Regions from separate parts of the Homo sapiens genome. Here regions 1 and 2 are each linked to region 3. Evidence: fine-mapped expression QTL. A gene starts in region 3. Each other region holds a variant in brackets. All regions are shown on one strand. Distances are between the middles of the regions.

Region 1 (10,820 bases), 21 kb before region 3:
AACTTCAATCAACACCAGAAGTCATATAAACGAACAAAGGCGAGAGTTCAAGAATGAGTTCCTGAAGAGGGACGGCAACTCACCAGCCCAGCCCCTTGCCACCCAACAAGCCCCTTGAATGGGCACAGCCCAGAGCTGCCAGCAGTGAGGATGTGCCCAGTCCTGCATGGTGCAGTGTGGCAGCCACCAGCCAGCCACAGGTGGCTACTACTAAGTCCTGGAAATGTAGCTAATGGGAATGAGAAACTGAATTTTCAATTTACCTCTAATTAATTTAAATGGAAATAGCCACACAGGGATAAGAGCTAGCAGCCTGGACTGCAGAGCCTGAGAATCAGAGGACACATCTTGTGAGGGAAAGGCATCAAGTTGCAAGAAAAGAAAACCCACGTTATTCATCTAACAAAGTACAACAACAAAAAGAAGTGTGTTTGCTCTGGTTTGAATCCTTGGAAGAAGTAGTCAGGATCAGAGCTATGAGAAAGAGAAGGAAAAAAAGCAATCAATCTCACAACCTTGTGTGGTCTAAGGAGGTTATTTATTTTTTCCCTTTGGATCTGGTAAGATTTTCATAACACAGCAAGGTTATCTCTAATCCTAGGAGATCCAGAAAGAAAAATGAAATGACAAACCCATCATGTATTTTAGGCTATGGTTTTTAATTTAGTGAAGTTTTCTGATAGCAGAATTTGTTATAACTACTGGTTCAAGTATATGTCTTGTTCACTAAAAACAGCCATACTAAATTTGTAACTATAACTCAGATTGTTTAAAAGAAATTCAATTAAGTTTAAAATCAATTTTAAACCTCTTACCTATCAGGTAGAGAACAAAAAACACTCTAAGAATTGCTAGTAGAACTAAAAATTAATTAGCCAGCCATGGTGGTGGGCACCTATAATCCCAGCTACTTGGGGAGCTGAGGCAGGAGAATCGCTTGAATCTGGGAGACGGAGGTTGCAGTGAGCTGAAATTGAGCCCCTGCACTCCAGTCTGGGCCACAGAGTGTGTCAAAAAATAAAAATAAAAAACTGAACTAAAATTTGGCATGATGTTTATGGAGGGATAATCTGGCAATTTGTATCAATGTACATACCTTTAACCTCAAAATTCACTTGTAGGAATCCATCCTAGAGATATACTCCAGGACATAAGCTACATGAGGACAGGGATTGATTTGTTTTGTTCACTGCTGCATTGCCAGTATATGCCTGCTACACAGCAGGTACTCAGTAGCCATGTGCTGAATGAATAAGTGGGAGAATGATTGTGAGAGGTCACATATGCGCAGTTATTCAGTACAGCCCTTCTTGGATTCTTGTAAACAGAAAAAGAACAGAAATACATAGTGCTTAGGTGAGTAAATTATGGCACATATTACAATTCTATACAATAATAAAACAAAGAACAAAGATGTTCTGTTAAGATACATAATGATTTCAGTAAACTATCATTAATGTTTAAAAAAACATCATGAATGTATATATGTACTTTCTAAGAATTTCTCTGGGAAAATATGAGATTGATAACACTGGCTGCCTCGAGAGGTGAATTAGAATGCAAACAAATCAACTGTAAAAAGATACCAAACGACTGGAAAATCTGAATATGGACTAAGTATTATTTGATACTAAGGAATTACTGTAAATTTTGTTAGGTGTGACAAAGGTATGATAATTGTCCCCCGCCCCGTGGACGGAGTCTCACTCTGTCACCCAGGCTGGAGTGCAGTAGCATGATCTTGGCTTACTGCAACCTCCTCCTCCCGGGTTCAAGTGGTTCTCCTGCCTCAGCCTCCCATGTACCTGGGACTACAGGCACACCACGACACCCGGCTAATTTTTTTGTATTTTTCGTAGAGATGGAGATTTGCCATGTTGGCCAGGCTGGTCTCGAACTCCTGACCTCAAGCCATCTGCCTGCCTTGGCTTCCCAAAGTGTTGGGATTACATGAGTGAGCCACCACCCCCAGCCAATAGTCTTATTTTTTAAAGGTGTCTTTCTCAGAGAAACATACTGACTATGTATAGGTGAAATGAGGAGATGTCTGGGATTTCACTTTTTAAATTCCAGATTAAAAAGCAAAAAAAGAGTACAGCGGGGAGAGAGATGAAATTAGACAAAATGATCACTGGTAAAATATGGGAATTCATTCTGTTCTTGCTACTTTTATGTATTTTTGAAACTTTCTATAATAAAAAATTATTTTCAAAAAACAACTGAATAGGTGGCCGGAGCAAGGGTTGGGGAGGAATTTCACCACCCATCTTTTTGTAACTTTTGAATGATAATATATTTATATTACCTTTTGAAATAAAAGTTTTAATATTGTCAACATCTAACATATTAGATTTAATAAACTAAGCATTAACCAAAACATAATGGTACGTTTCTTCCCACAAAAATAAAGAAGGAGAATTAAAGACCCTGAACACCATGCTATTCAATAACTCAAGCTGTACGTGTGCAGGTGAGATTGCTCAAGGATGGCTGCATGAGACAGGAAGAAAGCAAAGGATGGAACTCAAAAATGCTAGTAATTAAAATACAGACAGTGGAAGGTGCATTTTATACTAGAAGCAATGGATAGCCATTTTAAATTTCTCTTTTGATAAGTCTCAACTTTGATGAAGTCCAATATATCCATTTTTTCTTTTATAGTTAGTTGTGTCTTCTCTTAGTAATCTTCGTATATGCCAATGTCGTAAATAAATTCACCTATTTTTTTCTAGAAGGTTTATAGTTTTAGCATGTCCACTTCTAACTATGAAATGAACAAGACTGATAATCTGGCCTATCAGTTTATAAGTTTTAGAATTAAACACCTGGTTATTTACAGCCATAAATTATGATAAATGAACAGAACTAACAATATTTGGTGGGTGGTAGGTCAAAAAGATTAACACAACATAATGCTGGTGAATTTCCAACTCCAGGCTTGTTAATTCATCCATGACATTATCGTGGTCTTTTCTAGGAAGACTTTACTAGTAAGAAAAGAACTGAAATCTTCTACTCTTTAAAAGTCAGACTACCAAAGATATTCCTGATACACTGTCTCAGACAGATTATTTGCTGAATGAATGAATAATGGATTGATACACAGTTTTGCTTTGACATAAGAAATAACTCTGAGATGCTTACAAGATTGTCACCTTTACTAACTTACATGAATATAACATAAAGAACTAGCATACCTGTATTTCTTCACGTTCCTTTTTATCTGGAAAAGTTCTTGCAGCTGTAGTATACTTTTCAAAAACTTTACGTTCCTTTTGTAGCTTCCTCATCTCCTCCTTTTTAAACTCTTCTATTCGAGCTAATTCTTTTGCTTTCTGTTGTTCGAAGTCTGCAATTTCTTTCCTAAAATGACCAAACTATGTTATCACCTAAGGAGACCATCTCAGTGCAGTGATGTGCAGAACCTGCTGACAGGCTAGTAACTGCTAGTCCTAGTGAATTCATCTTCAATCCATAGGCCTGAAATAACAGCCAATCCACTCACTAAAGCATTCATCCAATAAGCATTCATTGGGTGCCTACGATGAATCAGGCATTCGACGAAGTAGTGGGGAAACCACAGTGAAAAAAACAAACATTCTAGCTGGGCACAGTGGCTCAAGTCTATAATCCCAACACTGGGAGGCTGAGGCAGGCTTGAGCCCAGGAATTCAAGGTTATAATGAGCTGTGATCGCACCACTGTATTTCAGCCTGGGCGACACAGACAGACTCTGTCTCAAAAAAAAAAAAATGTATTCCCATGCAGCTTCTTACATTCTATTGGAAGACAGACGATAATAAAGATAAATAAGTACATGGAATATTAGAAGCATTAAAGAGAAATAAAGCAAGGAAGAAGTTTAGAAAATATCAGAGTGGGAGGGTGAAACTGTGTTGTATGTGAGGGCTTATCTTGCTGAGATAACATGAAGGAAACCTGAAGAAAATGAGAGAGCCAGTCACAAGGGTGTCCACACACAGCAGTACAGGCAGAAGGAGCAGCAAGTGCCAAGGCCCTGAGGCAAGAATGTGCCTGAGGTGTTCAAAGAACAGCCAGGAGGCCAGTGTGACTAAAACACAGTGAGCAAAGGATGGGTAGCAGGAGAAGGTGTCAAAAAAGGAGGAGACAGGCCAGGCACGGTGGCTCACTCCTGTAATTCCAGCACTTTGGGAGGCCGAGGCGGGCAGATCAGGCCAGGAGCTGGACCTGAGGTCAGGAGTTTGAGACCAGCCTGACCAACATGGAGAAATCCCGTCTTTACTGAAAATACAAAATTAGCCAGGCATGGTGGCGAATGCCTGTAATCCCAGCTACTCGGGAGGCTGAGGCAAGAGAATCACCTGGGAGGTAGAGGTTGCAGTGAGCCGAGATCGCACCATTGCACACCAGCCTGGGCAACAAGAGTGAAACTCCATCTCAAAAAAAAAGAGGAAGGAGGCCTTGATCAGATGAACCGTCCAAACGCAGGCTGGCTCTGGATGTGTGTGAAGAGCACAGACGCGGGCAGCAGAGAGACCTGCTAGGAAGTGAATTTAATAACCAGAGAAAGCCAATGGGGTCCTGGTGGAGAGTGGCAGCTCTGAGGCAGTGAAGCAGTCGGGTTAGAAATGGACTGAGAGAGCAAGAGAAGACTCAAGCATGACTCCAAGATTTTCCACTGGGCAAATGGAAGAGCAGACTCATGTGCTGAGACAGGGAAGAAGAAGAGAAGAGTAAGTTCAGGAGGGAACGTCAGGAGCTCACTTTTTCTAAATGATCAATTTAAACACTCATCAGCTCTCCAGGTAGAGAGAACAACGAGGCAGTGGGATAGGAGATGTGGGCGAGAGAACTGGATCTGGGGCGTAACAGCATTTAAAGCCTTGAGACCGGACAAGTCTCTCCCTGCCTCACTGGAGGGAGAGCAGACAGAAAAGGTAAAAGACATTCTTACTGACTATTCAAAATGTCGACCGTGTGCACACAATCATATAGTCAAAGCAAACACTGGGGGAGGAATACTTGTGGCACATTTGAGAAAGTTAAATATCCTGATAAATGAGCAAAGATCACAAAGAAAGTTACAAAATAAACACAAATGACCACTAAATATAAAAGCATGCTCAACTTTATCAATAATTAAATAAATACAAACTTTAGCAGGTGAAAGATGGCATAATTATCAGGTTGGCAAGATTTGAAAGACTGCTAACGCTCAACTCCAGTGATGGGGAAAGGGGTGAGAAGAAGCCTCAGATGCTGACTGGGGCAATGGACATTCTTAAAATTTATCACAAGGAAGTAGATTTTTAAATAAAAAGTGTCTTATACATATGACGATATTCCCTGCAGAATAATTTCTAATGTGGAAAATTCTAAACAAGCTAAATTTCCATTAACTGATTAGTCACAGTGGCATTCATATAATACAGTCATTTCAAGGATACAGAAGACTAGGGCGTGCTAATAGGTAAGATGTCTATTATGTTGTTGAAATGAAAAGCAAGGCTGGACATCGTAGCTCATGCCTGTAAGCCCAGAACTTTGGGAGGCCAAGGCAGGGGGATCACTTGAGCCCAGGAGTTCAAGACCAGCCTGGGGAACATGGCAAAACCCCGTATCTACCAAAAATACAAAAATTAGCTGGGCGTGGTGGTGCGTGCCTGTAGTCCCCGCTACGCAGGAGGCTGAGGTGGAGGATGGTTTGAGCCCAGGAGGCAGAGGTTGCAGTGAGCCAAGATTGTACCATTGTACTCCAGTCTGGGTGATAAAGCCAGACCCTGTCTCAAAAAAATAAAAATAAAATAAAAAGCAGATTAAAGAGCCCATACAGTAGAGCCCAGGGCTCTACTGAACCACACTGCCTAGGCTGGCACTGAGGCTCTCTGTCACTGACTAAGGAGGTAAACTTAAAAAACTTGCTTCTCAGTGCATCAGTTTCCTCATCTGTCAATTGGGAAGGATAACACAATGTCTAAATTCGAGGACTGAATTTTGCTTAGAACAAAGCAAAACCGAAATAGGGAAAATGCTAAAAAAAAACAAAAAACAACAACAAAAAAACAAAAACCCAGCCATTATCTTATGACTTAAATGTTCTTTAAAAGAAAAAGATGTCCGTTTTGAAATAATGAAGCAGAGACGTTTTAAAAGTGATCTTGGGTGGAGAACGGATTGGAATAAGTTCCACATTTTACCCATAACTACTATGATAAGCATACATTTACAGTATGTATCAGC[T/A]GAAAAACAAAGATGTTTCCATTAAAAAGTAACAAATTTTCAGAATTTGATTTTTAAGCATACTGCAGATTATAGTATAGTAACCGAATTTCCTTTTTAAGTGGATTAATAGCTGTCTATAAACCTTTATCTGGAACTTAGGGGCCAGATGTGCTTTAGAATTCATATTTTTCAGGTTTTAGAAAAGAAATACGGAAGAGATGTTAAGGAAGATGGTGGAGTAGGAAGCTCCAACAATCAGTCCCTCCACCAAAGCAGCTATTGAACTAGCAGCACCTGTCAGAATCAACCACTTCGGAACTCTGGACACTAACGAAAGACTTGCAGCATCCTGGGGAGTGCTAAAGAACAAAGAGGCTGGGAAATTTGGGTGAATTTCAGCATTTGCATAGCAGCTACCATCCCCTAGATCCCATCCCGCAGCAGGCAGCCATGGGAACTACAGTTGTATGAATTTCTCCTCAAACATTAAAATAACAAATACCAAAAAACAAAGAAATACGGTGTGTATGTGACATATAATATCCCCAACAAGACCCAGAGCAACACCTGGAATAAAAAGTACTAGTATGTTCCTGCAACAGAACTTAGTACTATTCACAAGTACAATTAAAAAATATGTCTACGTAAAATTTATATAGAGAGAAATAATAAATATAACATATATAAATAGCCTCATGTAAGTTCAGTTCAAGTTTTGCTAACCAATAAAGTCAGGTAAGATCATGACCTAGGGTAGGAGACGATATGTCATACTATCGACTGCTGTAGGTGGAGTTGTGTCCTCTAAAACAATATGTTGAAGTCCCAATCCCTGTGAATAGTGCCTTTGCAGATACAATTAAGATGCCAGTTAAGATGACGTTATACTGGAGTAGGGTGGGCCCTTAAACCAATATGACCCTATCCTTAAAAGAGGCACCAAGACAAACACACACAGAGGAGAATGCCATGTGAAGACACACACAGAGGGAAGATGGCCATGTGACCACAGAGGCAGAGACTGGAGTGATGTAGCTGCAATCCAAGAAATACCAACGTGTGCCTGAAACCACCAGAAGCTGGAGGAGCCAGCATGGCCCGCCTTGCTGATGCCCGGACTTTGGACTTACAGCCTCCAGAATCACAAGAAAATACATTTCTATTGTTTAAAGCCACCCAGTTGCTGGTACTTTGTTACAGCAGCCCAGAGAAACCAATACACTAACTAGCCAAAGTACCACTTGAAGGTACCATAGCTCCAAACTGTTTTTCAAATTTTAATTTATGATCTCTCCACTAAGAAAAATTCCCCTTTGTACACATCATTGACTACCCTGGGTCATTTTATTCAGTAAAAAAAACTTATATGATACAGATTTCACCTCCTTTTCAATTATATTTGTTTGACTGATTTAAATTGTTTCAGACTGTTTATAGATGGTCTTAAAGGTATAACTGAGTCACTGCATATTTTTTCCCAACTTACAGACCCAAACGTACCTGAGTTTTTCCAAGGCACTTTCTCGTTCAATGCGAAGTTTAGCTAAAGATGCGTTCTCAGCTTTAAACTTTTCTATTTCTGTTTCCAATTCAATAATTTTCTCTCTCAAAACCTGGGATCGAGCATTGTCACCTATGAAATAGGCCATAAATACTGAACTTCAAAAAAGGCATTACTGCAGCAAAAACACTAGCTAGCTAGTAACACTAAGAGCCAAGAATATGGCAAACATCTGTGCTATTAAAATGCATTAGAAACAATGCTTCAAACATGAAAAGGAAAAAAAATTAAACCTAACTTTCCTGAGGAAATCAGTGGGAATTTATGGAAGAATTAATCTACCTCAAAAGAGTATCGACCTGACAAGGAATCAACATGATACATAAAAAGAAATCATTCAAATCAATTTTTCAAAGACGAATATATATAAATAGCTTAAGAATAAGTAATCCACAAGAGATCTGAAGAGCTAATCAACACCAAAATCAAAGTTTACCCCTACTATTAATCAAATAAATGCAAATTGTTTTCCCTTTATCAAATTTGCTATTTAAAATGTAAAATAGCCAGTGCTTCTGTCCTTCAAGCATTTTTATCAATTAGTACTTTTTTAGAAACTAAATGTGATCCACAAGGCTAAAGAAATGAGCTAAGTTATACAACTCTGTCATATTAAAACTACATAGAAAAAATGACTGGAATGAAATATCCCAAAATGGCATAGCAGTTACTTTTGGGTAGTTAAGTTGTAAATATTTTTGCTTCTATGCTTTTTAAGCTTCCAAACTTTGTACAAAAAAATTACTTTTAAAATCAGAATTTTTGAAAATTAACGTTATAATTTCTATTTTAATTTCTATTTTAAAGCACCTATGCTCTGCTAGTTTATAATATAATATAATGGAAAGGAATCTTTCAGGGTGAGTTTAAAAAGTCCGTTACATCAACAGAAATACTACACATCCGTTAAATGGAATGAGGTAGGTGTGTACATGCGTTAGAACAATCTTCAAAATTTATCATAAGCAAGGTGCAGGACAGTATACAAAAAGAGTCTTTTCATTTGTATAGAAAGGTAATTATATACAAACTGACACATATGCTTTTATATGCACGGACTCTTTAGAATACACAAACGAAATGGTAATACTGGTACCTCTAGGAAGGGGTACTTGAACCAGGTCTGGGGAAGAAAGGAAACGTAGAAGCTTTGATGTTATCTCACTTTATTAAAAACTAATTAATTTTAAAGCCTCATATAGACCCATAAAATAAATCAAATTTTTACAAATCACCCATTAATTTGACTTAATTCTATTGAGCAATAAGGAAAGTTAGGATTTTAAGCATTCTGACAGCATACTGATTAATGTTAAATTTCTAACATTCTGATACATATTTTATAATGCTCTGACTCACCAGGTGGTTGGTCTTGACTTATGTTTAACTTGAGTTCATTTCCCAAGTGTGAATCTGACTTTGGTTTTGGTTTCAAAGAAGGAAAGAATTTCATCATCAGCTCCGATGTAGGAGGACTTCTGCTCCTCCTGGACTTGCTCAAGTCTTCTCCCCTCTTGACTGGTGCAATCTTCCTTTTTATTGTTTTGTCCAGGATACCTATTTCATTATTAGGGTAGCATGTCTGCGGCGTCCCATAAGTGGATTCATTCCCAAGAACAACATCATGGTTACACAAATTCTCTTCAAGGTCAGTCCAAGTTCTTTCATCATCAAAGTCCATTTTACTCAGACTTAGGGATGAGGATCTCGAGGGCTCAGACACTTTATGTTTTATGCTTTCCATGATAGACTCATCGCTACTGTAATCTTTATCAGACAAATCCAGATCAACATCTCTCCTTTTATCTTCTTGGGTCCTGGTGTCCTTAAAAGGCCCCTTATCATCACAGACTTGTGGGCTATCCTCTCTGCTGCTGATGCCCCTCTCTCTATCCTCAGTCGATGGTTTTATGGTAACATCAAGCTGTTCCTCAGAGTCAGTGCTACTGTCACTATTTGGAACACCTTCATCGTCACGTGCATTCCATTCAGTCTGATTTTCAGAAGTGCTCTTTTGGACGGCTTTCCTGATTTTACAAGGCTGTTCCCTCAATTCATCAGCTGAGGACAATGAATGAAGTTGTTTGGGTGCGACTTCACACTCACTCTCCTTCTCACGTGCAGTGTGGTCCAAATCCTCACTGCGGTTACAATGACTAATGGGATCTGCCGGATTTGTCTTCTGTGGCACAGCTTTGACAGGGGTGGAAGACATCCGGTGACCTTTGCAGATCTGTTGATCCCTTTCTAAGATTTTCAGTACAAATGAGGAATTACTAGAAAATGATATTTCATCAGCAGCTTGTTCTAAAAACAAAAATTCATCTAATTCCAAATTTTCCTTTTCCTTTTCTCGTTCCCAAGTCTCTAACTTTTTCTGAAGAGAAACGTCAAGAGAAGATTCAGACTCTTTCATGGTCTCCCTTATGGGGCTCTTAGCAGCCAGCCGGCTGGCCGGCCCTGTTGAAAGAGGAAGTCTGTCTTTACCTTGTGTCTTATTCCACCCTGTGCAGCCAGTATCGCAAGGTTTTGGACACTCAGTTACATTTTCTTTATTATTAGATGTGACTTTGTTTTCAAATTTGATCTGGTCTCTAAACTGCCCATCACATTTCTTCCCCGTCTGTATTTTCAATCCTGACGGAGAAAGACTTTTCCTGTTACTACACTTCAGCATTTTCGGCTTCTGACTGAGGGTGACAGAACCACTCTTGGTTCTAGCTTTACTGTCCTTTTTAAGGATAGGGTTGTCTGCACACAGCTCTTTATTTTTAAGAGCGGTTTTCCGCTGGAGTTGCTGTCTATCCATTTTAAACAGCGGCTGGTCCTCGGAAGTGCTCTGGTTAGTCACTAGTTTACTTTCTTTGCCTTTTTGAAACTTAGATTTGGCATTAGTAAATCTAGCTAAACCTTCTCCTCGTTTTAAAAATGGTTGTTTTGGTTTTGCTTTGATTGGCAATGGTCCTTCTGCTTCCTAAAATAAAAGAATAATATTTGAATTAATTTTGGTATATCCAAGTGATCTCAAAGTTATTTTTAAGGCAAATTATAGATA
Region 2 (10,820 bases), 21 kb after region 3:
ACTTGAGACCTTTGTCATTAAATCTGTACTGAATAAATGCCTGGAGCCCCAGCCTGTCAGGGCTGTGGCTGCTGACTCTTTACAGCACCCTCCTTGGTGTCTGGGAGCTGCCGGTCCCCTAGCCTGCTGTTTCATGGGATACCTGTGTCTGAGTGCATTTCTTCACCCGTCATGTGGCCAGGGTCTGCAGGTTGGACCTGGCAAGTTACTGACACAGTTTGAAAATTATACAGGATTGGTTGTTGAGTTGGATATTTTAGTCAACATTTATTAAGCCCATGCCTCAGCAGTAGTTGACTTTTGTCTAAAGGGAAAGAAAGAAATTCTAGTTTTCCCAAACATCTAAGGCTCCAAACAAAACATACTGAATCAAGATTTCCAGAAGAAAGTCCTGACAACTTGGATATTTAATAGGTGCTCCAGGTTATCAAGCACATTAGAATACAATGGCCCAGGTGCTGTATCTCAAAGTGTGAGTCTGTGAACTGGCATTGTCTGCCTCACTCGAGAACTCATCAAGACAGGCAGAATCTCTGGTCCTGTTTGAGACTATTGAATCAGAAGCTGCATTTTTATTTAGCAAGGCCCCCAGGCGACTCCTGTGCACGATTATAGTTGAAGGGCTAGTGGACTGTGGTGACAGGAACATATTTGGTGCTTGTGCAGGGCCTTGTTCTAAGAACCCATGATGCTTGTGCACAGTGGAGCATCCCATCAGTCCAATTGTTGGGAGAAAAGCTGAGGCAACACTTGCTATCTGACATAATATAAAGAGTCTTGGAACATGTCCTGGGTCCAGAGTTTAAAACCTCTTGTGGCCTGTGCAACACCAGCCTCTGTGCTTAAGGGTGGAAGGCTGCCCCGCTGCACTACAACCTAAGCCCAGGGCATAAAACCCCTCATGGCTTGGATGGAATCCACGACTCAGGACATAAAACCCCTCGTGGCCTCTGGAATGTGCCCAGACTTGCTGGCTCCTTGCTTCTTGCTCTCCCAGGATCATAAATTGATTGTATCTTGAGTTATAAGGACATATTCAACATTATCTCGAGTAGCAGAACATGTTCCATATGCTTCAAAGGAAATGCTAAACCGACACAGCTATAAATTAAACACTTGATGCGACCACTTCCTTTTGACCAGCACATCCTCACCCCCTGCTTCTTTGTTTTATCACCAATAAATAGTGTGGGCTCCCAGAGCTCAGGGCCTTCACAGCCCTGAGTGCCCTGGACCCACTTTATGTACTATTGTCTTGTCTCATTCCTTTGACTCTGCCGGACTTTGTAGCCCCCATGGCATGGTGTTGGGGCTATTTGTGACTGCCTTTGTTTTATAATATTTTTATTATTCACCTTGTACAGATGAAGACTCCCAGCTGTAGAGGCAAAGGGGCCAAACTGCAGGTAGAGCAGGCATTCCCCAAGGTGTTTGTGATCCCGGGGTACAGCTCCCACCCTTGGCTGCCTGGATGCTTCTTTCCAGACCAACTGTATCTCAAAGACATCCCCTTAGGCACCCAGCACAGGCTGCTGTCTCAATTTAGAACTGAGCCTGTTCAGTTGATGGCTCAGCACAGGCCTCTAAAAAAGCAAGCCTGATGTGGGTTAGTACATCTGTGGTTGGCTTACTTATTTGGTGTTCATTTTTTCAGTTTTCAGAAAGGTCACTTGAAGTGCTGCTGGTGGCTGTAGCATTGATACACAGTGGAGGTTTTTGATCTGTGAGCTTTTTAGGGGACAATTGCTAAGCCGCACTGATACCTTGAGCCCATTTCCTTTGGAACAACGTAGAGCCCAGTTCATGGCTCCCAGAAGTTTAGGTTCAGTAATTTGGCTGCAGGCCTAGACAATGGGAGGCTGCAGACTTGGACTAATGGTGAACTCTTGCCTCCCCCCAGGGATATGTGGTGCCTGTCATAAGCTCCAGAGAGCTGCCTTCCATGAGACCAGCAGAAGAGTGGGTTCCACTATCCAGGCTGCCATTGACCTCATGGTGGCGGCTGCAGGTACAGTCCTGTGTCTCATAACCATGCTTCTGTTGGTGATGGATGGTTTATCTGATAGTGGTCCCATGAGATTATACCATCTTTTACTATACCTTTTCTGTGTTTATATACATTTAGATACACAAATACCACTGTGTTACAGTTGCCTACAGTATCCAGTACAGTAACATGCTGTACAGGTGTGTAGACTTCAGCAACAGGCCATACCGTACAGCCTAGGTGTGGAGTAGGCTATGCCATCTAGGGTCGGGTGTGTGTGTTCTATGATAGCACAGTGATGAAATTGTGTAATGACACATTTTTCAGAACATGTCCCAGTCATTAAGAAATGCCTACGTATAATCCCAGAGAAAACCCAGTCTTCTCTATTACTCAAGTACCTTCTAAATGAGATCAAATGAAAGTGGTATGAAAACATTACCTTTCTCCCTCCAGAAGCGATGGGCATTACCTTTGGGATGAATCCATTTGATGGAAGTGAAGTATTGTTCAGAGTGTGGCAGAAGATAGAGGAGTGTCCATTATTGCTAACACCTTGTGAGTCAGGGTGAGAGGAGGAATGTGCCCAGTACAGCTGGAAAACAGCTCAGAGGTGAAGCCCCTTGTCCACTGTCACCTGGCTGGGATAGGCAGGTGACGTGGTTCTTCACTTCAAGCCTGGCAGTCTTCAGAGCCCTTGTAGTGCAAAAATAACACCGTAGCATCTCCCAGGAAACACCACTTACTGTCCCTGCCAGTGTTGGGAAAGAAAGGAGGACACTCTTTAGAAGTGTCTTTTACAATGAGACTGATAATGGACTGTGTCTCAGAGCCATGAAAGGAAAGGAGAAGTTGTAGGATTTCCTGGGAATGTCAGCTAACTTGAGCCTAGGGGCCTGAGCCCAAGGGCAGACTGAGGCTCCCCCGGCACAGGGAGGTGCTGCCTGTGACAAGGGGGTAGTGCTGGCACAGTGCAGGCTACTCCCTAGAAAGATCAGCTTGAACATGCAGGAAGAGCAGGACCCTTGGGCTGAGGCACAGGTAGAATGGGAAGTTCATGGTAGTAATTTAGTTCTCCAGAGGCCAGAAGTAGGAGGAGAGGTTGGAAGGCTGATTGCCCAAAGGGAAACCCTGGACTACCCTGGCGTCCCACAGGACTCTCATAGTACTTGCGGCTCCCTGCAGTGGGGAGGCCAGAAGGAGTGTTGCCCAATGCTGTCCTCATCCAGTCCACCCCCACCCACCACCAACGGGTGGGTATGGTCATGAGTGTGGTCACCTCATCAGTCATTTGCTCAGCTGTGAAAAAGAAATTGTTCAGAGAAGAGCAAAGTGTTTTTCCATGAGCCAAAGGTCGGCCAAGGTATGCTAATGAGGAGGACTGGAGACAGCGCATCACAGACACTGATAAGGAGCACTGGGCAAGGGCACTTCTCCCAGGGCAGAGCCCACAAGGAGCGTCCTGGCACCAGATGCTCAGGGAACTGAAGGCTGGCAGGGGCCTGCCCAGTAGTCTCTCGCCCACCGCATGCCTTTAGGCTACAGCCTCCCAGGCCCCGGGCCCCCTCCCCTCCCCCGTGCCACACTGGGGAAGATGCTGACCCTGAGAATGGTGCAACCATCTGCCTGCCCCTGGCCACCTCTCACCAGCACGTGAATGCTCTTGGGCTCAGTTCTGTATCTGCAGTAGGAGGGTGTTTATCCACGTGACAGAGTCTCACCATTTGACATTTTATGTCTTTCAGTCTGTCAAAGATCTAGAACATATTGTGATAGAATTAAAAAGTTTACTTTTGGCTGGGCAAGGTTGCTCAAGCCTGTAATCTCAGCACTTTGGAAGGCCGAGGCAGGTGGACCACTTGAGGTCAGGAGTTCAAGACCAGCCTGGCCAATATGGTGAAACCTCGTCTCTACTAAAAATACAAAAATTAGCCAGATGTGGTGGTACATGCCTGTAATCCCAGTTACTCGGGAGGCTGAGGCAGGAGAATTGCTCGAACGCAGAAGGCAGAGGTTGAAGTGAGCAAAGATTGTGCCACTACACTCCAGCCTGGGTGACAGAGTGAGAATCCACCTAAAAAAAAAAAAAAAAAAAAAAAAAAGAGTTTACCTTTTCCTATTTATGCGCATACAGGTATTTGGGTACCACGTTTGTAATTTACAGTTAGTTTGAAAGATAGAAATTGAAACAGTATGGTTGGGAGCCTGGTATGTAAGCCGTTTGCTGGTGGGCGTGTGTGTATTGGGCCCTTGTATGTACGATCTCTGTGATCCCATCATTACTGTTCATTTCTTCCAGGAGAGGAATGACACACTTCTCCCTTTAATTGCCAAATTATCTCCAATTCTGAATCAGTGGAATATAATTTAATATGATTTTACTATGATTAATTCAGGGTCATTCTCTCCCAGGTGCTGCTGGGCTAGGATAAAATGAGATCTGAATTACATTAAAATAATTAAGTATTCCAAGAGAAGAGGTGACAGAATGGTTTAAGTGGCTGCGTAGTTTAGATAACCTAGATGCAGATAAGCTGAATAAAGCATTTAATCCAGCACATTCGTATTTTAACTTGATCATCAGCAATGGGAGTTTGAAACCCGATTGCAGCTGCATGTCCCACACAACTGAATTTTGTTCCTTGCGCACAGCAGTGTTTTCTGGAGGTGCCTGGAGGTCTGAAGGTGTCCCCTTTTATAGGCAGGAATTCCACCAGGATGGGTATAGCTTGTTTTTTTAAAAGGCTTGGGACTGGATACGATTGCCCAAGAAGACAGAAAAATTAGCAAACTTTATTCCAGTAAGAAAGTTTGGGATGTACTGCTTCAGTCCCTGTCCTAAGGAAATTATCAAGCCTGGAGGGTGGGGTGCTATCAACTGCCTGCCAACATGTTACCTTCTGACATCCAGAAGCTTCCCTGTGCCAGATGGAGCCACCAATGTGGGGAGGAGAGCACAAAGAGCAGAGAATCCACAGAAACCATACCTGCAGGGAGCAAACACCATCACACTCCACTTAATGCAAATGCATTTACCTATTCTTACCATCTCCCTCAGCATGTTGAATCTATTCTGGGGTTAGACAAGCTCCCAGACTTATCTGCTATGTTTAATAAAAACAATTTTGGCTTTTAATGGTAAAGGAAGAATCGGGGCTATTAAAATACTTAAGAGTGAGAAAGTTGAAAAAAGATGTAGATTGCGTTTGGCCTGTCTTCCCCCCACCGTAAAGGGTTGCCACTCAGCTGGAGGCCTGCTGGTTCGTGTGGGCCAGCCCTCCACACCTCAGTGACCAAATGAAATACAACCCTCACTAGAGCTTCTTGTACTTGGCAAGACCCAGGGGTAGACCTGGGCTACCAAACAAAACCTTGTGTTCTTAGAGCCTGGGAACAACAGCTTTGACAGTTTCCACAAAGAACTCTTCCGCAGCATTAGCATTTTTATTTTCACCTACCTGCAGCCATTACTACATTGAACTCTGGGAATGTCACGTCAGCTGTTCTTGAGATAAAATACCATTTGCTATTTTTTTTTCTCTAGGCCCTGTCCCTTTGATGTTAAGTGGTGGAGGGAGTTGGCGGGATTTGCCTCTGGCTTGCGGTATATCCAGTGGATTGTATCAAATAAAGAATTCAAGTTCTTTCCATGTCTGGAAAACAGGCAGGATTTATCAGAACCTTTATAAATGTTGTGAAAAATGAAGGTGAGTAAACACCTGTTTTTCCAGCATCTAGTATACATCTTAAAATCTGAGATATGAACTTCTCTGTTTTGATTGTAAAAAGAAAGAGAACAGTAACACAGAAACTTTGTGTCCCAAATAGAGCACAGATACCTTGTCTATTACTCATAGTAATCCTCCCTTAAATTTGTATAACGTGAAGTTTTACAAAGTACTTATACCTCCCTTATCTAATTCAATCTTCATGACCACCCTGGGCAGTACTAATACTATAAACCAGTCTCCAACCTCAAGGTTGGTGCTCTTGCCACTGCCCAGGTGAAGCTGCAAAGCTGTGGCCACCTCTGTCTCCATGGTTGCCTCTGTCTGGCTGTCTCAGGCCTCAACTCTGCCCCATCCATATACTAAGAGTTAACCAAGCATGGAATTGGGGTATGTTACCTGAGCATCAGTCAGTTTC[A/G]CCAGGAGACCTGATACTTGTTCTTGTTTCTGTTGGTCTATTTAGGGAAAGCTGGGAACGCATCCATCCATGACTTGTTGGTTTTTAGCACTCTTGCCTGGATTTGCATGTGTAAATATACCTGTGCTATGCAGCTGCGTGGGTGTCCCCAAAGGAGGGATTGTTACAGTCTTTGATTGCCCTTTTGTCTTCTAGGAATAATGGCCTTATATTCTGGACTGAAACCTACTATGATTCGAGCATTCCCTGACAATGGAGCACTCTTTTTGGCCTACGAATATAGCAGGAATTTGATGATGAGCCAGTTGGAAGCATACTGAAGTGTCTTGGAGGGCCTGAGCCAAGCACAGGTGTTTGAGGACTACAGTTCATTTCAGGGTTTCTTGTAGTACAAGACCAGCGTGAAGTCATTCTGATTTCTTGGGAATTTTGCCTTTCTGTCTTCTCTTATACCCTATATCTTAACTTGTTTGGAAGAACCTCTATTTTACATCATGTCATTTCTGCCCATAATTGTACTGAAATAGAGAAGTCACTGCTCTTTCCCTTGGTAAAATAGAGAGTGGTCAGTAGCCTTATGCACCTAATTCAAAAGACTGAGTACAGTTCTGTCAGGGCTTTTACATAAACCTCTACTTGCACATTCAATTTGGACAGTTATGTGTTGAGGGAAATACAGTTTGGTTCCATGTTTATTTCAAATATTACCAGAAAAACCCAGAGGTGATCATTTCTCATAAAGATGCTTATAAATGGTTGCTTAACCCATTCTAGATGTAGGATCTACTTAATATGTGTACTATTCTAAGTGGTTGATTTTTTTTTTTTTAATATGGAGTCTCACTCTCTTGTCCAGTCTGGAGTGCAGTGGCGCAGTCTTGGCTCACTGCAACCTCTGCCTCCCGGGTTCAAGAAATTCTCCTGCCTCAGCCTCCCAAGTAAGTGGGATTACAGGGTTGCACTACCACACCTGGCTAATTTTTGTATTTTTAGTACAGACAGCATTTCACCATGTTGGTCAGGCTGGCCTCGAACTCCTGACCTCATGATCCACCCGCCTCAGCCTCCCAAAGTGCTGGGATTACAGGCATGAGCCACTGCACCTGGCCAAATAAAACATATTTTTAACTAATAAAAACTAAGGACAAAGAAGGGCATTCCTTATAGAATGATAAAGGGCACAATTCAACCAGAAGACTTAGCCTAAATATGTACACACCCAACACTGGAGCACCCAAATTCATAAAACAAGTTTTTCTTGGCCTACAAAAAGATTTAGACGCACAATAACAGCAGGAGACTTCAACAACCCACTGACAGCAATAGACAGATCATTGAGGCAGAAAACTAACAAACTCCGTACTTGCACTTGACAGTTGACCAATTGGACCTGATAGACATCTACAGAACACTTTGTCCAACAAACACAGAAGATACATTCTCATGTGCACAGAGAACATATTCTAAGATCAACCACGTGATTGGCCAGAAAGCAAACCTCAATAAATTCAAAAAGTTTGAAATCATACCAAGCACACACTCTGACCACAGTGAGACAAAAATAGAAATCAGTATCAAGAAGATCTCTCAAAACTACATAAGTACATGGAAATTACATAATTTGCTCCTGAATAACTCCTGGGTGAAAATCTAAATTAAGGCAGAAATAAAAAAATTCTTTGCAATTAATGAAAATGGGGACACAACATACCAGAATCTCTGGGATGAAGCTAAAGCAGTGTTAAGAGGAAAGTTTATAGCACTAAATGCCTTCATCAAGAAGTTAGAAATATCTCAAATTAACATTCCTACTTTGCACTTAAGAGAACTAGAAAAAAGAATAAACTAACTCCAAAGCTGGCAGAAGAGAAATAACTAAAATTAAAGAAGCACTGAATGAAGTGCTTTTTGAAGTGCTGTTTTTTTTTAGACTAGATGCAAAAATCCACACAAAAGATCAATGAAACCAATAATTAGTTTTTCAAAAAATAAACAAGATGGATAGACTGACAGCTGAACAAAGAAAAAAAGAGAAGAAGCAAATAAGTACAATCATAAATGACAAAGATGACATTACAAACAATCCCACAGAAATACAAAAGATCCTCAGAGAATACTACAAACAACTCTAGGCACACAAATTAGATAATCTAGAGGAAATGGATAAATTCTTGGAAACATATAATCTCCCAAGATTGAATTAGAAAGAGATTGAAACCTTAAATAGACAAATACCGAGTTCCAAAATCAAATCATTAATATAAAATCTACCAACAAGGAAAAGCCCTGGACCAGATGAAGCAACAGCTGAATTCTACCAGATGTACAAAGAACTGGTACTAGTTCTATTGAAACTATTCCAAAGAACTGAGGATGAGGGGCTCCTCCCTAACTCAGTCTATGAAGCCAGCATCAGCCTAATACCAAAATCTGGCATAGAAACACACAAAAAGAAAACTTCAGGCCAATTACTCTGATTAACATAGACACAGAAATTCTTAACCAAATACTAGGAAACAGAATCCAGCAGCACATCAGTAAGTTAATACACCACAATCAAGAAGGCTTCAGTCCAGGGATGCAAGGCTGGTTCAACATATGCAAATCAATAAATGTGATTCACCACATAAACAGAACTAAAAGCAAAAACCATATCATCATCTCAATAGATGCAGAAACAGATTTTGATAAAATCCAACATCCCTTCACATTAAAAACCTCAACAGACTAGGCATCAAGGGAACATACCTCAAAATAATAAGAGCCATCTATGACAAATTCACAGCCACCAACCTACTGAATGGGCAAAAGTTGGAAACAATTCCCATGAGAAATGGAGGAAGACAATGATGCCCACTCTCACCACTCCTATTCAACATAGCACTGGAAGTCCTACCTAGAGAACTCAGACAGGAGAAAGGAAGAATAGGCATCCAAATAGGAAAAGAAGGAGTCAAACTACCTCTCTTTGCTGATGATATGATTCTATACCCAGAAAACCAAAGACTCTGCCAAAAGGCTACTAGAACTGATAAACAACTTTAGCAAAGTTTCAGGATAAGAAACCAATGTATAAAAATCAACATCATTTCTATACACCAATAATGTCCAGGCTGAGAGTTAAATCAAGAACAGAATCCCATTTATGGTAGCGACAAAGAAAATGAAATAACTAGGAATACAGCTAACAAAGGATGTGAAAGATCCCTACAAGAACTACAAAACACTGCAGAAGGAAATCAGAGATAACACAATTAAATGGAAAAGCATTCCATGCTCATGGATTGGAAGAATCAGTATCATTCAAATGACCATACTGCCCAAAACAATTGACAGATTCAGTGCTATTTCTATCAAACTACCAATGTCATTCTTCACAGAATTAGAAAAAAGTATTCTAAAATTCATATGAAACCAAAAGAGGGCCTCAATAGCCTAAGCAAATCTAAGCAAAAGGGCAAAGCCAGAGGCTTCAAACTATAAGGCTATAGTATCCAAAACAGCATGGTACTGGCACAAAAGCAGACATATAGGCCCATGGAACAGAATAGAAAACCCAGAATAAAGCCTTACACTTACAGTCATCTGATATTGCAAGGCTGACAAAAACAAGCAATAGGGGAAGGACTCCCTATTCAATAAATGGTGTTGCGGTACTGGTTAGCAATATGCAGAATAATGATACTCGACTCATACCTTTCATCATATACAATAATTAACTGGAGATAGATTAAAGATTTAAATGTAAGACCTCAAGTGATAAAAATCCTAGAAGAAAACCTCAGAAATACCCTTCTTGACATTGGCCTTGGGAAAGAATTTTTAACTAAGTCCCCAAAAGCAATTGCAATAACAACAAAGATTGACAAGTGGGACCTAATAAAGCTAAAGTGCTTTGGCACAGCAAGAGAAATGATCGACAGAGCAAACAGATAACCCACAGAACAGGAGGAAACATTTGCAAACTATGCATTCAACAAAGGTCTAATATCCAGAATCTATAAGGAACTTACACAAATCCACATGCAGAAACCAAATAGCCCCATTAAAAATGTGGAAAGAACATGACACATACTTCTCAAAAGAAGACATACAAGTGACCAATGAGCATCTGGAAAAATGCTTCACTTCACGAATTGTCAGAGAAGTGCAAATCAAAACCATAATGAGATACCCTCTCACACTAGTCAGAATGGCTATTAATAAAAAGTCAAAAACAACAGATGCTGGCAAGGCTGCAGAGAAAAGGGAACGTTTATACATCGTTGGTGGGAGTGTAAATTAGTTCAGTCACTGTGGAAAGCAGTCTGGAGATTTCTCAAAGAACTTAAAACGAGCTACCATCTGACCCAGCAACCCCATTATTGGATATATACCCAATGGAAAAAAGACCATTCTACCAAAAGACACACACACTGATATGTTCATTGCTGTGCTATTCACAATAGTAAAGATATGGAATCAACCTAGGTGCCCATCAGTGGTGGATTGGATAAAGAAAATGTGGTACATATACACGATGGAATTCTACACAGCCATAAAAATGAATGAAATCATGTCTTTTGCAGCAACATAGATGGAGCTGGAGGTCATTATCCTAAGCAAATTAATGCAGGAACAGAAAACCAAATACCACATATTCTCACTTATGAGAGCTAAAAAACAGGTACCCTTGGACATAAGGATG
Region 3 (10,820 bases):
CTGGGGGACAGAGCCACTCTGTCTCAAAAATAAATAAATAAATTACAATTACATGGACCTATGCATTTAGTATGGCAACCATATAGTCACATGGCTACTGAGCACTTGAAATGTGGCTAATGTGACTGAAGAACTGAATTTTCCACTTTAATTAAAGTTAATTAAATTTAAAAAGTGAATAAGTACAAAATATTTTTCTCTTAAACACTTTTATTCTCTCGGTAGGACTGCATTTCACTTTAACCACTGCATGGCATAAGATGCTGCTGTACTGAAGCCCATGTCAGTGTGCATCACCCCCCAGATTGCAAAGAAACATGTCTGCAATCTCATCAGTGTCAATGGACTGATTCTGTTTGAATAATTTTTTTCAACACATGGATATAACACTGTTATGTGTCTATCTGAATAGTTTATGAAAACAGTACAAGTTACAGTGATCTATTTAAATTGTAATTGGTAATTATCTTGGTCCATTTTCTGCTGCTATAAAGAATACCAGAGAAGAGACTAGGTAATTTATAAAGAAATTTATTTCTCACAGTTCTGGAGCTGGGAAAAACAAGAGCATGGCATTGGCAACTGGCAAGTGTTGTCCCATGGGGGAAGAGTAGAAAGGCAAAACAGCCTGTGAGAGAGAGGCTCTCTTTTATAACAAAGCCACCCCTGAAATCAGTAACCCACTTCTGAGATAACAGCATTAATCCATTCATTAGGGTGGAGCCCTCATGACCTAATCACCTCTTAAATTTCTCACCGCTCAACACTGTTGCATTGGGAATTAAGTTTCCAACAGGAGTTTTGGAGCGGACAGTCAAGCCATAGCAGGAATTAAGTTGAAATGTTTAGTATTTTAATTATGGCATATTTTTCTAGTTTGAAAAAGATGTATGAACAATTTTTAAAATTTAAAACAAAGCTACACTATGGAAGACTCAAGTGGAGATGCAGAAGCTAGTACTATGACCAGAACAGTGAAGGAAAAAAGACTGGAAGGAGGCACCTCACAAGTTTCACATCAAATGGCAACCACAATTTGCTGTGGCAAAGCGAACAGAAAAAGTTTTAAAAAATTTTAAGATAACTAATATTGAGACATTTTCAGCAAAAACACAGCAATTTTTTATAAGTTTATTCTCAATAATAAAAAAACAAATTGATATGCAGTTGACCCTTGAACAACACAGTAAGGGTTAGGGGGACCAACTCCCCATGCAACCGAAAATCTAAGTGTAACTTTGACTTCTCCAAAACTTAACTGCTAATAGCCTACTGTTGACTGGAGGCCTTATCAATAACAGTTAACACATATTTTGTATGTTATGTGTATTATATATGGTATTTTTACAATAGTGTAAGCTAGAGAAGAAAAGTTAAGAAAATAATAAAAAATATACATATTTACTATTGGTTAAGTGGAAATGAATCATCATAAAGGTATTCAGACTTCATTTATGTTTTGTGTCTAAAAAACATAAACATATGAAAGATATGCAGGGAGACCTTTATGATGATCCACTTCCACTTAATGGATAGTAAAGGTCTTTGTGTCACTAGTCCTCACATTGGACTAGGCTTAGGAAGAGAAAGGGTTGGTTTTGCTGTCTCGAGGGTGACAGAAGTGGAAGAAAATCCAAGCATAAGCGAACCCACAAAGTTGAAACTCATGTTGTTCGAGAGTCAACTGTAATTAGTCACCTGTGTCAGAACTAAATAGCCAACAAAAAAAAAGTTTTATGATTTTGAACAGAATCTGACCTTTTAACTTTGGCCAGTTATAAAAAAGCCTGGAAAGAAGGAGGGTGAGGGGAGAGAAAGAGATAGAAATGAAAAGAAAAAAGAAAATTATTTTCAGATGAAGAGGAGGTAAATAGGTTATCTGAGTTGAGGAAATTTTGTTAGAACACTGTGAGATTTAAAAAGATATTTTAATTAAAAGGTTAAAGATATTTTCTAAAAAGTGAAAAATTTTCAACGAAGTGACCAAACAATTGTCCATAGACCCTTCTATTACCATCCAGGTTCAAAGCCATAAAAAATTACAAGCACTTGTCTTTAGCTTTATCTGAGTAATGCAATGAGAGACTGACCAATCACCAATTTAGGTGTGTTTTATCTCACAGATTATCTAAATTTACAAAGAGATGATATCAATTCAAAGCCTGATACTGAACCTGTGACATGGATATTTTTTAATCTTTTTTTTTTTCCTTGAGACAGGGTCTCACTGTCACCCAGGCTGGAGTGCAGTGGCATGATCACGGCTCAGTGGAGCCTCTACCACCCAGGCCCCAGTGATCCTCCCACCTCAAGCCTCCGGAGTAGCCAGGACCATAGGCATATACCACAACACCCAGCTCATCTTTTAATTTTTTGTAAAGAGTGGTCCCCCTGTGTTGCCCATGCTGGTCTCAAACTCCTGGGCTCAAGCCATTCTCCCACCTTGGCTTCCCAAAGTGCTGGGATTACAGGCGTGAGCCCCTGCGCCCAGTATTTTATGTCTGACAGAAGAATTTTAGCTAGATATGAAAACATTACTTTTTTTCTTTTTTTCTGAGACAGGGTCTCACAATGTCACCCAGGCTGAAGTGCATTGGCACAATCACGGCTCACGGCAGCTTCAACCTCCAGTGCTTAGGTGATCCTCCCATCTCAGCCTCCAGAGTAGCTGGGCCTACAGGTATGTGTCACCATGCCCAGCTTATTTTTTATTTTTTAATTTTTTTGTAGAAACAGGGTGTCCCTATGTTGCCCAGGCTGATCTTGAACTCCTAGGCTCAAGCCATCCTCCTGCTTCGGCCTCCCAAAGTGCTGGTATTACAGGTGTGAGTCACTGCGCCCAGCCTAAAAATCAGTTTCTATCATGACAGATGGTGTCATTCTATAAGGCAAAAAATCTGAATTTAATGGGATTTTACAACAAGAGACTGCTGTTTCCCTCGCTGATTCATTCCCCTGTATAATACACATTGAAAATTCTTGTGTTTGGTTTTCTGAAGCATAATCCACGAATAGTATCATGAATATAGTTGTTACAATTGTTCAGTATGTACAAATGCTATCAACTGCCAGTTTATAGAACTGTTAAAAGACATAGAAGACAGTGAACATAATGATACTGTGTTTTTGCCATCGCTCCCTGGTTGAGTTGTAGAAGAGTTGTATAAAGGCTTACTGTACCATTAATTGCAACTGAAGATTTTCTTGGAACAAGATGATTGCCTGCCAACCATTTAATAACCAAAAACAAAAATGCCAATGTGATGTACATTTTCTCACTGTATCACACTTTGAGAACCACAGCTATTCAGGCATTTAAAAAAACAAAAATTGCTGCCACAGGCAGTAACAAAAATAAATAATGATGTGTGAACATCAGACAAATATGATTCCTTTTTTTTTTTTTTTTTTTGAGATGGAGTCTCACTCTGTTGCCCAGGCTAGAGTGCAGTGGTGTGATCTTGGCTCACTGCAACCTCAGCCTCCCGGGTTCAAGCGATTCACCCACCTCAGCCTCCAGAGTAGCTGGGACTACAAGCATGCACCACCATACCTGGCTTTTTTTTTTTTTTGTATTTTTAGTAGAGACGGGGTTTCACTATGTTAGTCAGGTTGTTCTCAAACTCCTGACCTCAAGTGATCCACCTGGCTTAGCCTCCCAAAATGCTGGGATTACAGGCATGAGCCACCGCACCTGGCCCATGTTTCCATGTATATGAAGCTGAAGAACAGGCAAAATAAACCCATAGTTATAAATGGCATATTGGTCGTTATCCAGGAAAATGGGAGTTGTCCTGTCTGTGTGAAAGTTGATCATACAAATTGAGTCATTCTTATAGCCAACTAAACAATCAAGAAGTCAAGAGGGAAAGGCACTCAGGACACACAACTTTGCTCCAAGAATGGAATTCTCTATAAGTCAGTATGCTGAAACTGCCGGTTGTAACCCGAGACCAATTTGATCTATAGATGCTGAGGTAACTTGCTGCAATTGTAGGACTAATTTTGCCCTCCACCATGGCCCACTCGGTAGGACCTGCTGCCTCCCCAGAACCTTAGGAGAACCAATGAACTTTCTCGAAGAGCGACAGATATAACAATTCTCTTTTTTATAAAACCTCCAGCTTTCTCTTTGTTCTTTGGACATACTGAAGACCACCTGGTCTGTACGCCTGGAACCGCCATTCTTTCTTCCCAAATAAAACGTTAAACTTAAGAGATTCATCTCCAAATTTTTGACTTCAACAACTGGGAAGGTTAATACAGGGGGTGGATACACTTAGGCTGTACACTTAAGATTAGCGCACTTTACTGGATATCTGTTATTCCTGAATAATTTGTAAAAACTTTTTCTAAGCAAATTGTTTTTCAGTAGGAAACCAATCTAAAAAAGTAATGACTTTTTTTTTTTCAAAATCAACCACGTAACTTTGCTTAATTTCAATGACCTTAGCAGAAAATCTTTCGAAATCCAAATTCAGAAGGGAGACAAACTACAAGGTCATTTCATAATATGGAAAACTAGAAAAATTCCCTACTAGACTGACAAGTGCAAGCAGTCTTGGGATGCAGCAGCCAGACTTTTGCATCTCCTCCTCCAACTCCCCACCAAACACACCTTCTATACCTTCAATTTCATGACCGCGATTCTAAAAATATATTTAATGTCAGCATGAAGTATAAAAAAAGCGTCACCAGAACCTGCTACTTATTATTGATACTGAGGTCTTGGTAAAGGGAGCATTGATAATATATATGCCGAGATAGGATTAGTATGTGGACTCAGACTTTACAGATATCAAAATCTGAAGGACACGGGTGCACGTGTATGTCAAACTCATCAAATGGAATGCATTTAAACATGTGCCATTTTTATTGTATAGCAATTATACCTCAATAAAACTTTTAAAAAATGTAACAAACTGACAGCCTTGAAATCTCCAGAAAGTGCTATGTAAACATTCTTTAAAGCAGTATTGAAAAAAAGATAAATTCTCTGCACGGTGAGGGAGGAGAGTGGATACAAACAGCAAATTCAAAGCCACTCTTAGACCGTGAGAAGTAACTAGTTGGTCTGGGAAGTGATTTAGCAGTCCCCTAAAATACAACACGTTCTTGAAAGCCATGAATCCACACGAAGCTTCAAGAGAGAAGCCCTTGACAAAGCTGGGGCAAGACCGGCCCTTAGGACAGCCAGCAACGCTACTTCACCACCCTGCTCCAGCGGACTGCGGCTGCCGCGCTGCCCACAGGAACTCAAGTTCCGCCACAGCCAGGTCAGAGAGACAGACACCCCAGAGAGGCCGGCTTCCCCAGCTCTGCGAAGAACAAAGCAGCGCGAATGAACGAAGCCACTGAACTGCCGTGGGCCTCAGCGCGCCCGTGGGCCTGAGCGCGTCCCGGCGCCCCGCTCCCTCCTCGCCCCGCCGAGCCAACCCCGAGGTCCGAGCAGAGTCCTGCCCGCCCACCGCCGTCCATCTCCGGCGCAGGGCGGCGGACAAAGAGCTCCTCCGCTCTTTTCGCCCACAAATTACCGCTCCGTGAAGCCTGGGCAGCTCAGCAGCACGAACCGACACCTCAATCTCCGCAGCATTTACAAATGGGCCGCCACAATCGCCGCCTCTGTCGGAGCCCCGCCCCCGTCCCGAGGTCCTGTGGGAAGTGAGGATCTCACCCGCGCGTCTGCGCTAAAGCGCAGGCACCGCTGAGCCCAGTGAAACTACAACTCCCAGTGACGCCACAGCGACGGGCGTTGCCCGGCGGGGGATGGACTGCGCGCCGCCTTCCGACCAGCAGCGGGCCAGTGGTCGACGTAGGCGGGCGGCGTGGCGGGGCGGAAAACCGTTTCCGGGAGAGACCTTCCGTGGTGGACGTCGCCCCAGGCTCCCACACTTAGAAAACTAAAGGGAACGCCTAACGGAGCGATGGATCTCCGTGTTCCCAGCAAAGCAGGGAGCACGGAGAGTCAAAGCTAACATAGAGCCCAACCGACGCTTAAAGGAGGTGTTTTGGGTTTTGTTTTTTTTTTTTCTATTTGCGTACGGTCTATTTTGTCGTTTTTTTGGTTTGGTTTGGTTTTTTTCTTTGTTTTCCGCTTTGGCTGAGGTGACTTAGTAAAGGAGAAAAAGGGCAGTCCGCTACACCATTTCGTAAGACGAAAATAACCCTATGAGAATTCACTCCAAAAATAGGCATCTTTCATCTCTCCTCAAATGGCTAATCGGTGGTTTGGCAGAGTGTGTCCATTAGATTCTGAAACTAGTTTGAATACTGACAGTGCAGAATTCAAGAAATTTTTTTGTTTTGTTTCGTTTTAACTGCCACGGCCCTTTAATCTAGGAAGTTACAGCACCGTGAGTTACCACAGTACTACATACCTGGCTTCCATGTCTGATTAAACAGCAGGCCAAGTAAAATGTTTAAAGAAATCAAATGAAGTGCCATTTATAACCGTTATAACTGAAACAAACGACTGCTAAAGACAAAACTATTTCACAGAAATTTGGTCCTCCAAAATTTGTTTTGCTTTCTACTTCAAAAAGAGTCTACTTCTCTAAATCAAGATTTCGGTTTTGCTTCTTTTTTCAATTTTTCTTTTCTTTTTTTAATTTTTATTTTTTGAGATGGAGTCTCGCTCTGTTGCCCAGGCTGGAGTACAATGGCGCGATCTCCGCTCACTGCAAGCTCTGCCTGCCGGGTTCACGCCATTCTCCTGCCTCAGCCTCCCGAGTAGCTGGGATTACAGGCGCCCGCCACCACGCCTGGCTAATTTTTTTATTTTTATTTTTAGTAGAGAAGGGGTTTCACCGTGTTAGCCAGGATGGTCTTGATCTTCTGACCTCGTGATCCGCCCGCCTCGGCCTCCCAAAGTGCTGGAATTACAGGCGTGAGCCACCGCGCCCGGCCCAATTTTTCTTTTTAATTTTCACTGTGGGTGAGGAAGCTAAAGCCCGAGACTTCCGAGATCACACAGCTACTTAAGATGCCAGACAAGGACCCAAACAATCTTCCTTTTCATTTATGATAGCCCTTTGGCTTGAAAGCATGCCCAAAAGTCTCATCATTCTTCCTAAAATGTGTATCTTTAAGGATAGTCGCAATATCCTCTATTTTTGTGCCTATATTTTATTCGTATGTTTTTATTTTAATATAGTATGTAGTGCCACATTGTTTGTTGATTGAATAAATAAATGAATCTTTTACCACACTCAAGTCTTAACTGGCTGTTAAATTAAGGTTATAATGTGTAAGTTTTCACCTGTAGCCCATGTAATTCTCAAAACTGCCCACTAAGCTTCAAGGGTTCAAATCCATTACAAGGTGGAAAGGCTAGTGGGGAGGAACTTCCATCTTCTACTCTGCCAGACAATAAAATGTTCTACCTTATCAGTGGTTCCTATCCTTGTTGCATCTTCAGATGGTGCTGTAGAGAAAAATTAGACTAACGGTTGTGGCACAGGGGTTTTAATGCCAGATTACCCGTTCTGATACAATTCTTTATGCCATCATAGGAGTCAAGAGGGCACTCCTATGTCATGGTTAAGAGTCCAGGATTTATCAGGCAGACCTGGGATCAAATCCTAGCTTGATAACTTACAAACAGCTTTGTAGTCTTCAGCACTCAACTTTTCTGAAACCAGTCTTCTCATCTGCAAAACAGGGGTGGATAATAATGAGACCTTCATAGGACTGTCAAGAAGATTACATTAAAAGAAAGACTATGTATGAAAAAGTAGCAAAAAACCTCCACATAGTAAAAAGTCAATGAACAGGAGGTGTTTTCATCTTTATAAAGAATTTAACTGTTGGTGAACTCTTGTCTACCAAAGCCTAGCTCTGTGGGTCTTGTCAAATGCTGTGCCAGACACAGAATAATACTTATTGTATTCCCAAATTATTTGGAAATAATTCTTTTTCATTATTTATTTTTTTGGAGACAGGGGTCTCACTCTGTTGCCCAGGCTGGTCTCTAACTCGTAGGCTCAAGCAGTCCTCTCACCTTGGCCTCTGAAAGTGCTGGAATTACAGGCATGAGCCACTGTGCTTGGCTGGTAATAATTCTTTTAATCAAAGTTGATCTGAGTGACAAAGAGTTGACAGCTTTTCATTGCTGGTCTGATGGTAGCAAGTGTCCACTCTATCCAGAGAGGACATGTCAGGTGCAGTGGCTCACACCTGTAATCCCAGCACTTTGGGAGACTGAAGCGGATAATTTGAGCCTAGACGTTTGAACGTTAGCCAGGTATGATGGTGTGCACCTGTAGCCCTACATACTTGGGAGGCTGAGGCAGGAGGATCACTTCAGCCCAGGAGTTGAAGGTTATGATCACACCACGAGACTACAGCCAGGGCAACAGAGTGAAACCGCCAACTCTTAAAAAGAAAAAAAGTGGGGGAGGACATCAGGGCTAGCCTGGCCAAGGAATGATTCCTATAGATCAGTCAGAGTGGTGGGAGAAACTATAGGGAAAGGAGCAGACCTTCTGAAAAGTCGGAAGCCTCTGCATAGCCTCCAGGGAGAATAAGCTGAAGGCAGCTGTTTTCTGACCCTGAGGCAGAGGGCAAGGAGTAGGTACCAGGAAGCATAGGGGAATTTATCGTAAATAGGCTTGTTTACTTACATTGACCAGGAGCTGACCTTTGATCATCCACATGCGTGACCCGTTCCCTGAAAGGGGAACAATAATGTTAATTACCCACAGATTGTTTTTGCTCCAGGCTTTCAGCATTATGTCTATACTGAATAAAAGCAAGCAGCTCCAGCTGTTTGCCTGCTCACTCTTTGGCCGCTAGTGCCAAGCAGTCCCCTAGCTGCTCTTACACTGCATATCTGCGTCTGAGTACTCGTTTCATCCATCGTCCAGCCAGGGTCTGTGGGACAGACCCAGCAACTGGTGCCCTGTGTGAGGAATGCTGCAACAGATCACGATGGAACCCCCAAAAATGAGGTGAAGAGACTGTGCGGGAAGTAAGTAATTGGTGCCCACTCAGGATTTCCAAGTTTGAGGGAATTTTCAACCTAGGGTTTCATCATGGGACAACAGTTATCAGCTCAACAGCAACACTATATGTAAGTATTGAAACAGCTGCTTAAAGCTAGCAGAGCCTGGGTCTCGGAGGCTCAGTTAAGGGGCCTAATGCAAACTGTTGTTTTCAATAACCCATGGTTCCCAGAAGAAGGCACGTTAGACCAAGAACTCTGGGAGCAAGTGAGGGGAAATCTTAAATAACATCATGCACAAGGGAAACGGGTCCCAGTAACATCTTTAACGTTATGGGCCTTAATCAGGGCTGCTTTGGCCCCACTCTACACAAAAGAGCCTAAAAAGGAAAGGGAAGAGGAACCATCCACCTACCTGACCGCCTCCTCCTCCCTCAGCCCCACTGTTACTAGGTAAAGGTGCCACAGAGGAGACAGAGTTTCCCTGAGCCCCCTCCTCCAATAAATTGGAAAAAAAGACAAGGGATACACTACAGTTACGGGACCCTGTCTTAGGCAAGTGGCATTAGAAGGGGAGCTCTTGGCCTGCCCTGTGATGCAAGATCAACACGGCAATCAGGTATATGAGCCCATCACTTTCAACACCTATAAAGAGATAAGAAAAAGCATTAGAGAAAACAGAGCTGCTAGCCCATCTACAAAAGGATTAATTGAGGCCATAGCAGACAACTTCCTTATGATCCCATGGGACAGGTCAGTGCTAGCTCAAACAACTTTAGAGGCCAGTCAATACCTCCTCTGGATGGCAGAATATGATGAGTTGTGTGAATGACAAACCAACCAGAATCAATTGGCTGGGTAAAACATATGGGTCACTCAGAAACAGAAAATTGTCGGCACTGGAGAAGTGCACACAGCCAAGCAGAGTGCACGCCCTCTAAAGTCACGATTTGGAGGGAAGAAAAGCAACTATACAACCTCTAATCATGCCCATCCCTGTTCATCTTTGGGAATGGGACCTTATTAGCCCAATGGGGGGGTCACTATGCAGAGCCCTTTCTAATAGTGGCCACTGTTGTAAGTCCTCCCCTACCCCTGACATGGCTGTCTCAAGATCCAATTTGGGTAGAACGGTGACCTTTAAAGGGAGAGAAATTACAACAAACCCATGAATTAATTGAGGAACAATTAAAAGCCAGCCATATAGAACCAGCAGACAGCCCTTGGAATTCACCCATTTTTTGTCATTCCCATAAAGTCTGGTAAATGGAGAGTTCTGCATGACTTACAGGCTATCAATGCTAATTTGCAACCTATGGGGCCCCTTCCACAGGGGCTCCCTTCCCCCCGCAGTGATTCCTCGAGTTTTGAGTCATTATTGACTTAAAAGACTGCTTTCATACTATTCTCCTTGCAAAACAGGACAGAGAAAAATTTACGTTTACAATACCAGCTATCAATAATGAAGGCCCAGCTCCCTGATTTCACTGGAAAGTACTTCCCCAAGGAATGCTGAACAGTCCTACCATGTGTCAGTATCGTGTAAATAAGGCTTTGCTCCCCAGTAGAAAAGAATTTCCTAATTGCAAGATAATCCATTATATGGATGACATCTTACTGGCAGCCCCAACGGAGCCAATACTTTTGAATTTATATGCCTCTGTCAAAAAGAATACACAGTTAACAGGCTTAATCATAGCACCTGAAAAGGTACAGATGTCCTCTCCTTGGAAATATCTTGGATATATACTAACATCCCAGTCAGTAAGACCTCAGAAGGTTAAATCGAATACTAACAACAGGCTTGTTTACTTATGTTGACCAGGAGCTGACCGTTGATCATTCACACACGTGACCCCTTCCCTGAAGGGGGAACAAT

Alleles and levels. Positions count from the first base shown, and alleles are read on the strand shown. Sizes are in standard deviations (SD) of each study's normalised expression. Not every link is listed here.
In carriers of allele A in region 1, the expression in nucleus accumbens of the gene that starts at base 5,635 in region 3 tends to be higher than with T alone (moderate effect, 0.53 SD a copy in GTEx).

What was found. PIP is the estimated chance that this variant, and not a neighbour inherited with it, causes the effect.
Region 1: its variant is the best candidate, but not a certain one, in a credible set for the expression of CPAP in nucleus accumbens (GTEx, PIP 0.75).
Region 2: its variant is the best candidate, but not a certain one, in a credible set for the expression of CPAP in lung (TOPMed, PIP 0.51).

Annotation. Positions count from the first base shown.
Region 1 is chr13:24,896,222-24,907,041 of GRCh38, forward strand. It overlaps CPAP (centrosome assembly and centriole elongation protein), which reads right to left. Exons shown (of 17, transcript NM_018451.5): 7 at 9,125-10,739; 8 at 7,705-7,837; 9 at 3,198-3,363. Among named protein-coding and RNA genes, the nearest start is that of CPAP, 21 kb to the right of the region's middle. RefSeq lists an enhancer at 4,290-4,369. The variant T/A (reference allele first, on the strand shown) is at 6,223.
Region 2 is chr13:24,938,048-24,948,867 of GRCh38, forward strand. It overlaps the pseudogene TPTE2P1 and the pseudogene SLC25A15P3. Among named protein-coding and RNA genes, the nearest start is that of CPAP, 21 kb to the left of the region's middle. The variant A/G (reference allele first, on the strand shown) is at 6,134.
Region 3 is chr13:24,917,227-24,928,046 of GRCh38, forward strand. CPAP (centrosome assembly and centriole elongation protein) reads right to left here and starts at 5,635. Exons shown (of 17, transcript NM_018451.5): 1 at 5,535-5,635. RefSeq lists enhancers at 4,779-5,680, 5,681-6,582.